Regions from separate parts of the Homo sapiens genome. Here region 2 is linked to region 1. Evidence: fine-mapped expression QTL. Tissue or cell type: whole blood. Region 1 holds a variant in brackets; the other region holds the start of a gene. All regions are shown on one strand. Distances are from middle to middle.

Evidence for each region. PIP is the estimated chance that this variant, and not a neighbour inherited with it, causes the effect.
Region 2: SLC29A2 starts here. The variant in region 1 is fine-mapped to the expression of SLC29A2 in whole blood (TOPMed, PIP 0.95).

What each region holds. Positions count from the first base shown.
Region 1 is chr11:66,323,860-66,332,094 of GRCh38, reverse strand. RIN1 (Ras and Rab interactor 1) reads left to right here. Exons shown (of 10, transcript NM_004292.3): 10 at 1-1,854. Among named protein-coding and RNA genes, the nearest start is that of RIN1, 8.5 kb to the left of the region's middle. RefSeq lists an enhancer at 5,049-5,798. The variant C/G (reference allele first, on the strand shown) is at 3,414.
Region 2 is chr11:66,369,836-66,374,375 of GRCh38, reverse strand. SLC29A2 (solute carrier family 29 member 2) reads left to right here and starts at 2,616. Exons shown (of 12, transcript NM_001532.3): 1 at 2,616-2,813; 2 at 3,051-3,132. The coding sequence starts at 2,785. RefSeq lists a silencer at 2,161-2,920.

The DNA.
Region 1 (8,235 bases):
GGCTTCGGGGGCCCCCAGACTGTGTGCCCAAGGCCCCTTGCCTCTTGTTCTTCTCCCCCAGCTGAGGGTGAGCCAGCCTGCAATGAGGGTGTGCCAAGTGGGGGCGAATCCGACAGATGCCCAACCTCTGACGTGGGGAGGGTGACGGTCTCAGCTCCTTTTACCCTTCCCCTCATGGGCATGGCTGAGGCAGGGCTCCACCCAAGTATCTCCCACCAGGCTGGGACTTCCAGACCCTAAAAGGTTCCAATGGCTCTTAGGTGTCAGGAGGATTTAGAGAGGCCACAGAACAGCAGCAAAGGCTTGGGGCCCACCCCTGTCCTGGACACCAGAAGGACCTGCACCTGCAAGCCTCAGTACTCTCATCTGTAAAGTGGGGACACTATTGCTGCCCTGCTCGGCTCCCAGAAGTGTCCCAGTGATCAAAATGGGTGATTTTGCTACAAGCAGAGCTCATGGCAGAAAGGGAGGGAGAGAGCTGGGCTGCTAACTCTCTCCCGGAGTCCGCTCTCTGCCAGACAGGGCTCCCACCTGCTGATGCCCAGTTCAGGGAGGTTATTCCCCTGGAAATCAGGCCCTGGGGAGAAAGTACCCAAGTTACAGTCTCTCCCCAAGATTTGGAGTCCTCCCAGGCCCTCCAGCATCTCTGGGGAGATCCACCAGCTGGCAGATAAGCTTCCAGAATGGAGAGGGGGCTCAGAAACCATGCTCTCTGCACTAAACTCTTGGCCCTCACAAAAGCTTTACTTGGCCATGACTTGTTGGGCCCACTGAGGGTCAGGAAAGTGACTCCCAGGATGTCATATAGCAAGTCCTTAAGGGTTCCCCCGCCCAAACCAGGGCATCAGGTTCCAACTCCACCCTCCATTCTAAGCCACCCACAAAGGCCGGGGCAGCCCCCAAGGAAGCCCAGAGCAGGCAGCAAATCCAAACAAGGAAAAGTGCCGACCACCAACCACGAGGGGGTGTGCACGGCCCGGGAATCTGCCGAGAGGGTGACCACCCAGGGGTGAGGGCGCCTCCAAGGCTGCAGCAGCAGAGGGGGTCCCGGGCCTTGCAGTCCAGCAGCATCAGGCAACCTGGGGACAGCGCAGGGGCCAAGGCCACTGGCCCCCAGGTCCCTTAGATTCTGGGGTCTGGGTAAGGCCAGCCTCTTGGGGGCCATCCCCAGGAAGGAAGGAATTGTCCCCTTATGGAGGATGACCCCAGAGGCTCTCTCCTCGGGCACTGAGCACAGAGGGGACGTCAGCCCAAATGTCAGACATGACAACTGGGAGGTAGAAATCGTGGACATTGGCTTTTTGGGTTTTTTTGTTTGTTTGTTTGTTTGAGATGGAGTTTTGCTCTGTCGCTCTGGCTAAAGTGCAGTGGTGCCATCTCGGCTCACAGCAACCTTCGCCTCCCAGTTCAAGTGATTCTCCTGCCTCAGCCTCCCGAGTAGCTGGGACTACAGGTGTGCACCACCACACCTGGCTAATTTTTGTGTTACTAGTAGAGACGGGGTTTCCCCATGTTGGCCAGGCTGGTCTCAAACTCCCGACCTCAGGTGATCCGCCCGCCTTGGCCTCCCAAAGTACTGGGATTACAGGCGTGAGCTACCACACCCAGCCAGACATTGACTTTCAGATGAGCAGTCCAGATACAGCCCAGTTGCACGGCTCCCATTTTTTTTGTCACTAGGCCACCAGCAGCTCTTCCCTCCCCACTTCCACGCCCTCCCAAGGTTCTCGCTGATAGGAAGTGTCCCGTTGGCTCTTCTATTCCCCTCCCTGTTTCACCACTCACCCCTAGTGCCTCACACAGTCCAATGCTGAGCACAAATGCCATAGGTGTTCAATAAATGTTGTTCACTGATTGGAGTTTGATAACCAGGAGTGAGGGACAGTGAGGCAGAAACCTGGGGAGTATAAGGGAGGACTCGGTTCTGGGAATCAAACACGGGATGTGTCAAGCTCAGTCCCAGAGGAAGGACCTGGAATGTTTGTAGAGGGTGCTCGGAGGATCCCAGGGGCCGGATGTACAACTGGCCTCATGGGAATGAGGCTCTGGGGCCTCTACAAGCCCTTCCCACCCTTGCCAGGCTCAGCATGACCTGACCCCCTCCCTGCCCTCCCCAGTGATGGGGCACCACAGGGAGCTGCTGCCTGGGTCTTGTGGTTTTTCTTCTCAAGAAACTCTGGGCTGGGCCTGGTGGCTCACGCCTGTAATCCCAACACTTTGGGAGGCCGAGGCCGGTGGATCACCTGAGGTCAGGAGTTCAAGACCAGCCTGGCCAGCATGGTGAAACCCCGTCTCTACTAAAAATACAAAAATTAGCCAGGCGTCGTGGCACACACCTGTAGTCCCAGCTACTGGGGAGGCTGAGGCAAGAGAATCACTTGAACCCGGGAGGCAGAGGTTGCAGTGACCCGAGATCACACCACTGCACTCCACCCTGGGCAACAGAGCAAGACTCCATCTCAAAAAAAAAAAAGAAATGAAAAGAAAACAAAAAAGAAACTGATTGGTCAGGGGTCCAGGCCAAATCAGCATCAACAAGATTATGATCCTGGGGCAGAGCCTCCAGGCAAGGCAGACAATGATAGGCCAGTGTAAGACCAGTCTCACTAGCCCCATTTTACAGATGAGAAAACTCAGACTTGCTCAGGGAAAGTGCCTTGTTACAGGACAAAGGGCTCAGACACCAGGTTCTGTAGTCCTTCAAAGCAGAGGGGCTGATTTATATGTCCACTCAGCACATCTATCAAACATCTGTTATAGGCCGGGCAAGGTGGCTCAGGCCTGTAATCCTAGCACTCTGGGAGGCCGAGGTAGGCAGATCACCTGAGGTCAGGAGTTCAAGACCAGCCTAGCCAACATGGTGAAACCCCATCTCTACTAAAAATATAGAAGTTAGCTGGGCAAGGTGGCTCACGCCTGTAGTTCCAGCTACTTGGGAGGCTGAGACTGGAGAATTGCTTGAACCTGGGAGGTGGAGGTTGCAGTGAGCTGAGATCACACCACTGCATTCCAGCCTGGGCGACAGAGCAAGACTCCAAAAAAAAAAATCAAACAACAACAACAACAACAGAAGTGTCTGTTATAGACCAAGCACCAAGCGCCCCCAGCTCCAGCCAAAGGGAAATAGGTCACATCTCTCCATTTGCATGGCGTGATCTGGGTGGTAACTGAAAGCTCACTGTGTCCTAGGGATTCCATGCCACCCCTTCCCCAGCCTTTGTCCTTATGGAAAAAGAAGCCAAGGCTCCAAGAGGTGACATGCCTGGCCCAGCGTCCGCTGCTGCAGGGCAAGACTGGAACTCTGACGTTTGGATCTATGAAAGAGCAGTCGGGTCATTTCCTTACTTGGAAGCATTGACCTTATCACTCCTAAAGTCACGGTGGTTCTGTATGCAAGTTTATTGTCTGTTTCC[C/G]TCACTAGAATGCCAGAGCCACCCCCACCTTGTTCGCAGTTAAATCTCAAGGGCCTTGAACAATGGCCGGGCCGGAACTGGCACTTGTGAATCTATGTGGAATGACTGATTCGGAAAGACGCAGCCTAAACTGTCCCTCCGCTTTCCTGGGTTGCAGGGTGGCGCATCCTTCATTGCTGCCACCAGGGGGCAGAGCGCACCTCATTCCTGGCCACGTGCAGGGTCCCCTCTGCTGAGGCGGAGGACCCAGGGGACTCAGTGCTCCCAGCCTGCTGCTAGGAGGAAAGCACCCAGTGGTGGGTCCCTGGGACCCTGCGAATGGGGGGTGAGGGAAGGGCTGCATATCCCTGGTTCTGTGGGCCAGTGTGCTCTAGGAACCAGGGGCCTACTGGTGGCCTGAAAGGGTTGCAGCAGAAGGCAGTCATTGAGACCCACCCTACCCTGCCACACCTTCAACACAGAGCATCTAGCACCCTGCCATGGCCTTGCAACCCATGTTCACACCCACAATTAACACACAGTGACACTGTCTGACCCACATTCCCACACAGGGTGCACATCCTGCCAGCCACGGGCACGTGCAACAACCCTGGGGCACCCCCAGGGTTAACAGGCACACCCTGACACTGTCAGCCATTCACTCCTGCGGGATGGGGTGCAGGGACACACTGGCGCCCCTCCTCCCAGACACACCCTGACACAGACCAGCCACCCACTCAGACATCCCTGGATCTGCAAACACTGAAATATTTCAGCACCCTTGTTCTTGGGTTCAGAGTGTGACTCCTGGACACACACATGGGGACAGGCTGACACAGAGACACATGGTGACCACCTACACTGGGATCCCATGATGCACTAGACCTACCTGTGCAGAACTGCCACCGGCACACTCCATCCCCCACTCAGACGCAACGGCGCACACTCTCCCGAGACACAGCACACGGCTGCCCCTTCCCACTCTCCAAGCATTTGAAGTGCAAACACACACAGAGACACACTCACAAAGACACACACAGAAACTCACAGAGACATACACACACAGACACACAGAGACACACACACACAGACACACATAGACACACAGAGACACACACACAGACACACAGACACACAAAGACAGACACACACACACATAGACACACAGACACACACACACAGACACACACAGACTTTTATACTTTGGAGCACACAGAAGCGGTCCAAGCCCTCTCCCGAGTCTCCTCACTCCAGCCCTGTCCTGTCCCACCACCACTCACCCACCCCAGCCCATGCTAGACCCTGGTGGGAGATGTGGGTTGCTGGAAAAGACCCCCATGAGGGGTGTGGTGACCCCACTAGCCAGGCAGGAGGCAGAGGCAGGCAACGCTGGGTGGGGAGGCCTGAGCTCATCAGATTCCAGCCTGAGTGATTCACAGGAAGAGCCTGGGGAGGACCCTGGAGGAGACACTGGCCCAGGGGCTGGGGCATTTGGGGCCTGAATGGGCTTTGGACCAGAGGGTCCTGGGTCCAGAGCGAGCCTTGAGTCTGGGGGCAGAGGACTTCCTGAGGGGGTGGCCCAGCCTGAAGGGTGCCTGCTGGACGCAGCCCCTGGGAGGGGCTCGGGGCTCAGCTGAGCCGCAGGATGAGACAATCGGCCCTTCCCACCCACCCCACCCAGGGCCAGGGCCCCTGACCCCACGCCTTCCAGGTCCTAGCAGCTGGGTGTCTTTAGCAGGGGTTAGGCCAAGGGTGGGGGCAGGGGTGTGGTGACCCTCTTGGCCCATTTTGGCCCCTCAGGCCCTCAGGCTGACAGCTCAGAGGCCCCAAAGGGCTGGGTCCGCCTGGCTGGGTTGGGGCCAACTGGGTTACAGCCCCGCACAGCCCTGCCAGGCGAGGCCTCTGCCAGAGAGCCGGGAACGCACGGGCTGTCCCCATGCCAGGGATGTTTTCCTGCTGAGATCGAGCCCTGTGCTTCTGCCACCCTCAGAACCCCTGTCTCCCAGGCCAGGCTGATGCTCAGAGGAGGTGGGGCCTGCAGCGCCCAGACCCAGCTGCAGGGTGACAGGAAGAAAGGATGGGGCTGGGGGCAGGGCGGGGGTGCAGGAAGTGCCTTTCTTGGAACTCTGCACAAAAATAGTCCATTCTGTCCCTACGCCGAGTCTCAGGGTCCCACAGGGAGGTGTGTGTCACCAAGGAGACCCTCAGCTGGGAGGGGCCGGTGCTGACCTTAGTCTGGCTTCTGCTAGCACCTCCCTCCCTCCCTCCACCCTCCGCCCTCCACCCCTCCACCCCCACTGCGGCCTCTGCCCCACTTTGAAGTCCTAACATAAATACCATGTCTGCTTGGGTTCCCCTTCCCGGCCTGGTCACAGCCCCCAGACCTGGCTTCCACCCCAGCCAGCCCCGTGGGAGTGTGGTGCCAGCAGACAAGAGGGAGGTCTGGACCACCCAGGGAAGGTGGCGAGCCAGAGACCCTGAGACAGAGACAGGGAGACACCGGTGGTGGAGGGGGAGACCAAAGTGAGCAGAGAATGGAGAGACAGACCCCAGAAACCAAGCAGGGGACGATCCTGAGGGCAGGAGAGGAGAGAGACAGAGACTCCAGAGACAGAGAGGGAAGAGAGGGGAGCAGAGAGAAAGAGACCCCTGCAGCCAGAGAGAGACGGAGTGAGACCCTGGGGACAGTAAGGGGCAGGAGGAAGAGGGCACAAGACAGGAAGCAAAGGGGAAAGTAAGAACCTTCAGAGAAGGTTCCAGAGATGGGGTGGGGGGAGGCAGGGACAGGGGTAGCAGGGGGAAGGATGTGGTGGAAAGAGAAGTGTCCCTGGCAAGTGGGACCAGCCATCTCGATTTCCTGGGATTGGCAGGGGTGTTGAGGGTGTCCCAGGACATGGGACTTTCAGTGCTGAAACCAAGAAAGTGGTCAGCAAACCTGGACGAGTTGGTTGCCCTGGGTGGTAGGCCTCTGGCAGACACCACGGGGACCACAGTGTCCACTCCACAGGCACCCCTTGCACAGGTGAGGAACCTGTGACCCTGAGAAGGGCTGCTCCTACACTGGGGCAGGAGGCCTGGGCCCTTCTAGCTCTGACACGTGCTCTGGGACTCCCTTTCTTGTGGGCAGATGGGGCCAGATGTTCAGGTCAGGCTTCTGCCACGAGAGGGAAGTGGGGTCCCAGCTGGGCCCAGGTTGGACAATCTGGGGGCAGCCATATGCTGCTCCCTCACAGCTGTGGGCACAGGTGTGGACTCGCGGGGACACACGCACATCACCCAGCTGTACACTCACAGCAGTCCCAGGCCTTTGCAAGCACACACATGCACACGCACACACACATGCACACACACATGCACGTGCACACACACATGCACACATGCAAGCATCCAGGAACACGAACATGGCCTCTCACCATGGTAAATACACCCCCAACCCTCAGCCCCCTTCGGTCGGCAAGATCCTTTACCCTCAGGGGCTAGGCCTGGTCTGGACCACACTTTTCCTGGGTCCCCCTTCCCCAAGCCTATTCCTCCCACCCGGCCCACTCCCCAGCACCACTGCCTCCCCTTCCGGCAGGGATCTCCCATCCAGAAGCACACAGGTTGGGGGGGAGGAGCAGGAGGCTGCAGTCGCTCCCTTCCCTCCCCAACTCCTGCCTGGGGTAGATGCCTGGACTTGGGTGGCAGGGACCCCCCAGCGCCCACCCAAGACCAGTGGCCTCCCACCCACCACACATCAAAGCTTCCTCCTGACAGTCCGAAGGCTGGGGTGGTTTGGGAAGAATTTAGGCGTGGAGGGAGGTGGGGGATGGGAACAGAAGAAAAGGAGAAAAGGAGGTGATTTGTACACAAAGCAATGTGCTGGCTCAGCGGCCTGGCGTGCCAAGGCCGTCCAGGACGCCTGCCTGGGGGGCGTCCCCTAATCACACTCGATACCCCACCCTGGCTGTTCCACTGGGCCCTCTCTGGGCCAGCCCTTCTTCAGGCCGCCCTCACCCTCACCCCCACAGGCCCACACATGGCATCCAAAACCACCATCTGCTTCTTGCCTGTCCCAGTAGCTGCAAGACAAGGCTCCTTCTCAGGCCATGGGCCTCTGTGTTCATGCTGTTCTTCAGATGAGCTCCCCTCATATGGGCCATGATCAGAGCAGGGAACCCCAGCCTCCTGACCCCTGATGTGAGCTGAGCCTGGCCTCCTGAGCTTGGAAGGTACATCGTCCCTACCCTCAGCCAGGGAGACATGTTGGCCTCAGAACCCAGCAGAAAACAGGCTGTTTGGTACCACGAGAAGCATCACACCTGATCCCTGCCAGTGGTAGTCTAAGTTGTCCTGTCCTGGGCTGCACTTCTGCAGAGCCGCGGAGTTCTGTTCTGAGCATGTCATTCATCATGGTGGCTGCTAGTTATGACTCAGGACCTCCCACTTCTGCCTGTGGCCCTATATCCAAACATGCATCTCAAAATCTTCTCATCCACACACCTGCCCACCTACCCATCTATCCATCCATCCACTTACTCATTTCTACATCCTTCCATTTAGCCTCCCGTCCACCCAACCACCCATCCACCTATTCTCCACGTAAACATCCTCCCACCCACCCATGCATCCATGCATCCATCCATCTATTCACTCTCCCACCCATGCATCCATCCATCTATCCACCCATGCATCCACCCACCCATGCCTTCATACATGCATGCATGCATCCATCCACCCACCCACCCATGCATCCATCCATTTGCCCATCTACTCATGCATCTACCCACCACGCACCCATGCATCATCTATGCATGCCTCTGCCCACTCATCCACCCACCCATGCATCTGTCCAGCCACCCAC
Region 2 (4,540 bases), 44 kb before region 1:
TCACTTGAACCTGGGAGGCAGAGGTTGCAGTGAGCTGAGATTGCGCCAGTGCACTCTAGCCTAGGTGACAGAGCAAGACTGTGTCTCAAAAAAAAAATTGTTTTTTTTTTTAAAGAAAAGAGGCTGGGTTTAGTGGCTTATGCCTGTAATTACAGCACTTTAGGAGGCTGAGACGGGCAGATCACCTGAGGTCAGGAGCTCGAGACCAGCCTGGCCAACATGGCGAAATCCTGTCTCTACTAAAAATACAAAAATTAGCCAGGCATCATGGCACACGCCTGTAATCCCAGCTACTCAGGAGGCTGAGGCAGGAGAATCGTGTGAGCCCAGGAGGCAGAGGTTGTAGTGAGCCAAGATCCTGCCACTGCACTCTGGCCTGGGCAACAGAGAGAGACTCCGTCTGAAAAAAAAAAAAAAAAGAAAAAAAAAGAGAAAAAGAAAAGAAAAAAAAAGGTAAGAAAAGAAAAGAAAATCCTGGCAAACTAGTGGGTCTCTGAGTGGCCAGTTTCACTGCATGCCTGTATCGCATGTGAGTTTGTAGCCGTGGATTCACTGCAGTTTTAGAAAGAAGGGCAAGCATTTGACAGCTTCATGTACCATGAATATTAACACATTCACACACACCATGTTATTACTAAATAATTTCCCTTATGATTCATCTGCAGTAAAATCAGGATATTATCTCGACATCAAATGTTATTGTGTATAGGTAGGTTTTGTTTTATATGAGTTTCATTGCAGGATAGTAACAAAATATTTATTACAAGGACGATGGAATCGGCTCCAGCTGACCGTCTGTGCTTTGAAATGAAATCTGAACTCCTTAATCAGCCCTCAGACTTGCCATAACCAGCCTGGCTGTTGTAGAGGCTCTGTCCCCTCCTCCCACCAATGCCAGCCAAAGGGATCTATTTGTATGTCCCAGAATGTGTCAGCACTCTCTTGTCCCTTGTCTTGGGACAGGCTGTTCTCTCCCTGAAATGCCCTCATCCTCTCCCTTCACTGTCTCAACAAATTCAGTGCTCCCTAGCCTCCATTCTCAAGTCCTTCCTTCACAACCTGTGCCATAGCTGTGCTGCACCAGCGGCCTCGCTTTTCTTTAAATAACTCATTTTCCATAAATAAATTGATTTTTCAAAGAAAAGTTGATATCATAATCATAAATAGGAAACCAGTATGAGTAGCCCTGAAAATAAAGTTGCTATAAAAATAAATATAAGAAAAATACAAGTTAATAACTTTTGATAAAATTGTCAGCAGACCCTCTGAGGCTAACTGAGGGGAAGGGATGGGAAGGCAGATTAAGAAGTGTTAGCAACCTGTTAACACCCTTGACATATTCAGAGGCTTGAAAGAAAATGGGAAGAATAACTTTCTCTTTCGGTGTAATTTAATGCTGTCTCTGTTCTCCCTAAAATCACCTGCATTTTACTGCAACCACCCATTTATCACTCAACGGCGCTAGATGCTGCCAGTAAACCAATGGACCAGATAAGCACAGCCTCTGCCCCTACAGACTCTCAGTCGGCTGGAGGAAAAACATAAGCAACCTGGGAATGGCTATAAAATGTCATTGCTTAAGAAAATAGTTTGTGGCCGGGCGTGGTGGCTCACGCCTGTAATAGCAACATTTTGGGAGGCCGATGCGGGCGGATCACCTGAGGTCAAGAGTTCGAGACCAGCCTGGTCAAAAGATGAGTTCGAGACTAGACTGGCCACCTCTTCAGTAGAGCTGGTGAAGCCCCGTTTCTACTAAAAATACAAAAATTAACCGGACGTGGTGGCATGCGCCTGTAGTCCCAGCTACTCCTGAGGCTGAGGCACCAGAATCGCTTGAACCTGCCTGGGAGGGGGAGGTTGCAGTGAGCCAAGATCACGCCACTGCACTTCCGCCTGGGCGACAGAGCGACACTCAGTCTCAAAAAAACTAGTTTGTGTTTTGGAGCCTCTCACTTCTCCAGCGTCCCCGATACGCCCGGGGATTGCAGAGAACCCACACCTATTCGTAGATTATGAGAGTAGGAGCAAATTAATGATTTATAGTCTTTTCAAATTTTTTTTTTTAACAGAAAAAGAGTAGGGAGTTGAAAGTAATGCTGTTTTTTTCCAGGCACTCCCGGGGACCCAGCGCGGCGAAGCCCGCCAGGATCGCGGGCGACCTGTGGCAGCTCTGGTTCCCCCGCCCGGGCCCGGCTCGGGTTACGCTCTGGGCGGGGACTCCGCAGCGGCTCCCTAGTTAGGGGGCGCCCCGGTGGGTTCCAGCTTTAGGGGTCGCAGGAGCGGCTCTGGCATCACCTCGGAGCTGACGAAGCGGGAAGAGCCCCGCACCAGTGCTGCCCCTACAGAGCTCTCGGCGGGGGGTGGAGGTGAGGTTACACCTCGTCCCTACCCCCGCCTTCCCCTCCGCCGCAGGGATCCGGGACCCGCCCCCGCGGAGAGGACGGGGGGCTGCGGGGAGGGGCTGTGCGGGGAGCGGGCGGGTTCCGCAGGCCCCTAGGTGGGGCGGGGCCCGAGCCAGAGTCGAGTCCCTGAGGCGGGTGGGGGAAGGAGAGACGGGTGGCGCGACCCTCTGTCCCCGCCTCGGGGCGGAGCCCAGGTCCCAGCCTGCGGAGCGCGAGACACGCCGAAATCCGCCCGAGGCTACCTGTGCGACTCCAGCCGCCCTGCACCGGAATCTGGGGAGACCCGCCCCCCGCCCCACCGGTCTGCGGCCCTCCGCCCCAGCGCAGGTGCAGGTGCGGCTTCTCTGCCCCTTTCACCCCAGGCGCATCCGCCGCGGCGGCCATGGCGCGAGGAGACGCCCCGCGGGACAGGTGAGTGGGCCCGGGTGCGTTGCAAGTGGCCGGGGGCGTTGCAGACCCGCTCCCTGAAGGCGCTCCGAGGCTCAGAGAAGACCGGATCGAACTACAATTCCCATCAGCCGACTCCCTCGGCCGCCGGAACCGGGGTGATCGGGGTTGTAGTCCGCTCCGGAGGGGGTGGCCTGGGAGGCGGGAGGGCCTGCGGAGGCGGGTGCGTCCTCGGGGTGACCTTCCCACCGATCCCCACAGCTACCACCTGGTCGGGATCAGCTTCTTCATCCTGGGGCTGGGCACCCTCCTTCCCTGGAACTTCTTCATCACCGCCATCCCGGTGAGACTCCTGGCGGCGTGGCAGCCTCGTGGCCACAGCCAGCACCCCTCCCTCCAGCCCTTTGGATGAAGCTTAGCGGGCGCTTCCTCACCGCGCACCTGTGACCCCTCGTTGAGCTCATTATGGGCTGAAGCTCGGAGAGGGGAATGCTTCCCCCGTGGCTAGGAAAGTAGAACTTCAGCAATGCCCACATCTCAGAGGGGCAAGGCCACCAGCCCACAGGGTCTGGAATGAGCAAAGGCGCTGCCACCCCTCTCTGTGTGTCGTTATTCCTGAGTCAGTCACCCCAAAAGTCGGTTATCGAACGTTTGATTTTCTTTGAAATACCATGAATTTCATTCATTCACTCATTCATTCAACAAACTTTTTTTTTTTTTTTTTTTTTGAGACAGAGTCTGGCTCTTTCGCCCAGGCTGGAGTGCAGTGGCGCCATCTCGGCTCACTGCAAGCTCCGCCTCCCGGGTTCACGCCATTCTCCTGCCTCACCCTCCCGAGTAGCTGGGACTACAGGCGCCCGCCGCCACGCGCGGCTATTTTTTTTTGTATTTTTAGTAGAGACGGGGTTTCACCGTGTTAGCCAGGATGGTCTCGATCTCCTGACCTCGTGATCCTCCCGCCTCGGCCTCCCAAAGTGCTGGGATTACAGGCGTGAGCCACCGTGCCCAGCCTCATTCAACAAACTTTTAATGTGCATCTACTGTGGAGCAGGCACTGGGGACACAGGAGGAAACAGCAGGGAGGCTCTTCAGGGAAGGCAGAAATGTGGGGTTTGCATTGTCTTTGGGACCGGGTTATTCATCTGTATTCACTGCAACAACTTTGCAAATGCTTCTTGGGTACTGGCTCTGTGCTGGGCCCTGGAAACCCAGAGATGAATCAGCCCCTGGGCTTGAGAGCAAGAGGGGGCCAAAGAGCTATTAATAATGTAACATGATGCGTGACATTCCAGGCTTGCAGCAGAGTGCAGTGGGTCCCCAGGGGAGGGAGAAAGTTCCTTCTGCTTCATGGAAGAGGAGATTTGTAAATTGGGAGTAGGGTAGGCAAAGTGCATGTGGAGGGGTGTGGTCAGTAGGGCATTCCAGGCCGAGGCGACAGCCATGCCAAAGGCAGGCAGGCAAGAGACGATCAGCCTGTTTAGAGGGAGATCCACAGCCAGGGCTGCCTGGAGCTTAGCAGGATGGAGCAGAAGATGGGGCACAAAGGGAGACTAGGATCTGATTCTGAAGAGCTGTTCCATTTGGGGCTTTGCCCTGCAGGCAATAGGGAGGCATGAATCGGGGTGTTGAGGAGTGAGGAGGTTAAGCAGAGGAGTGGCAGGCTATGTGCTCTAGAGAGAATGCAGTTGTTCAGCACCTAGGCCAAAGCCTGGCTGACAGTAGGCGCTCAATAAATACCCGTGGAATGAATG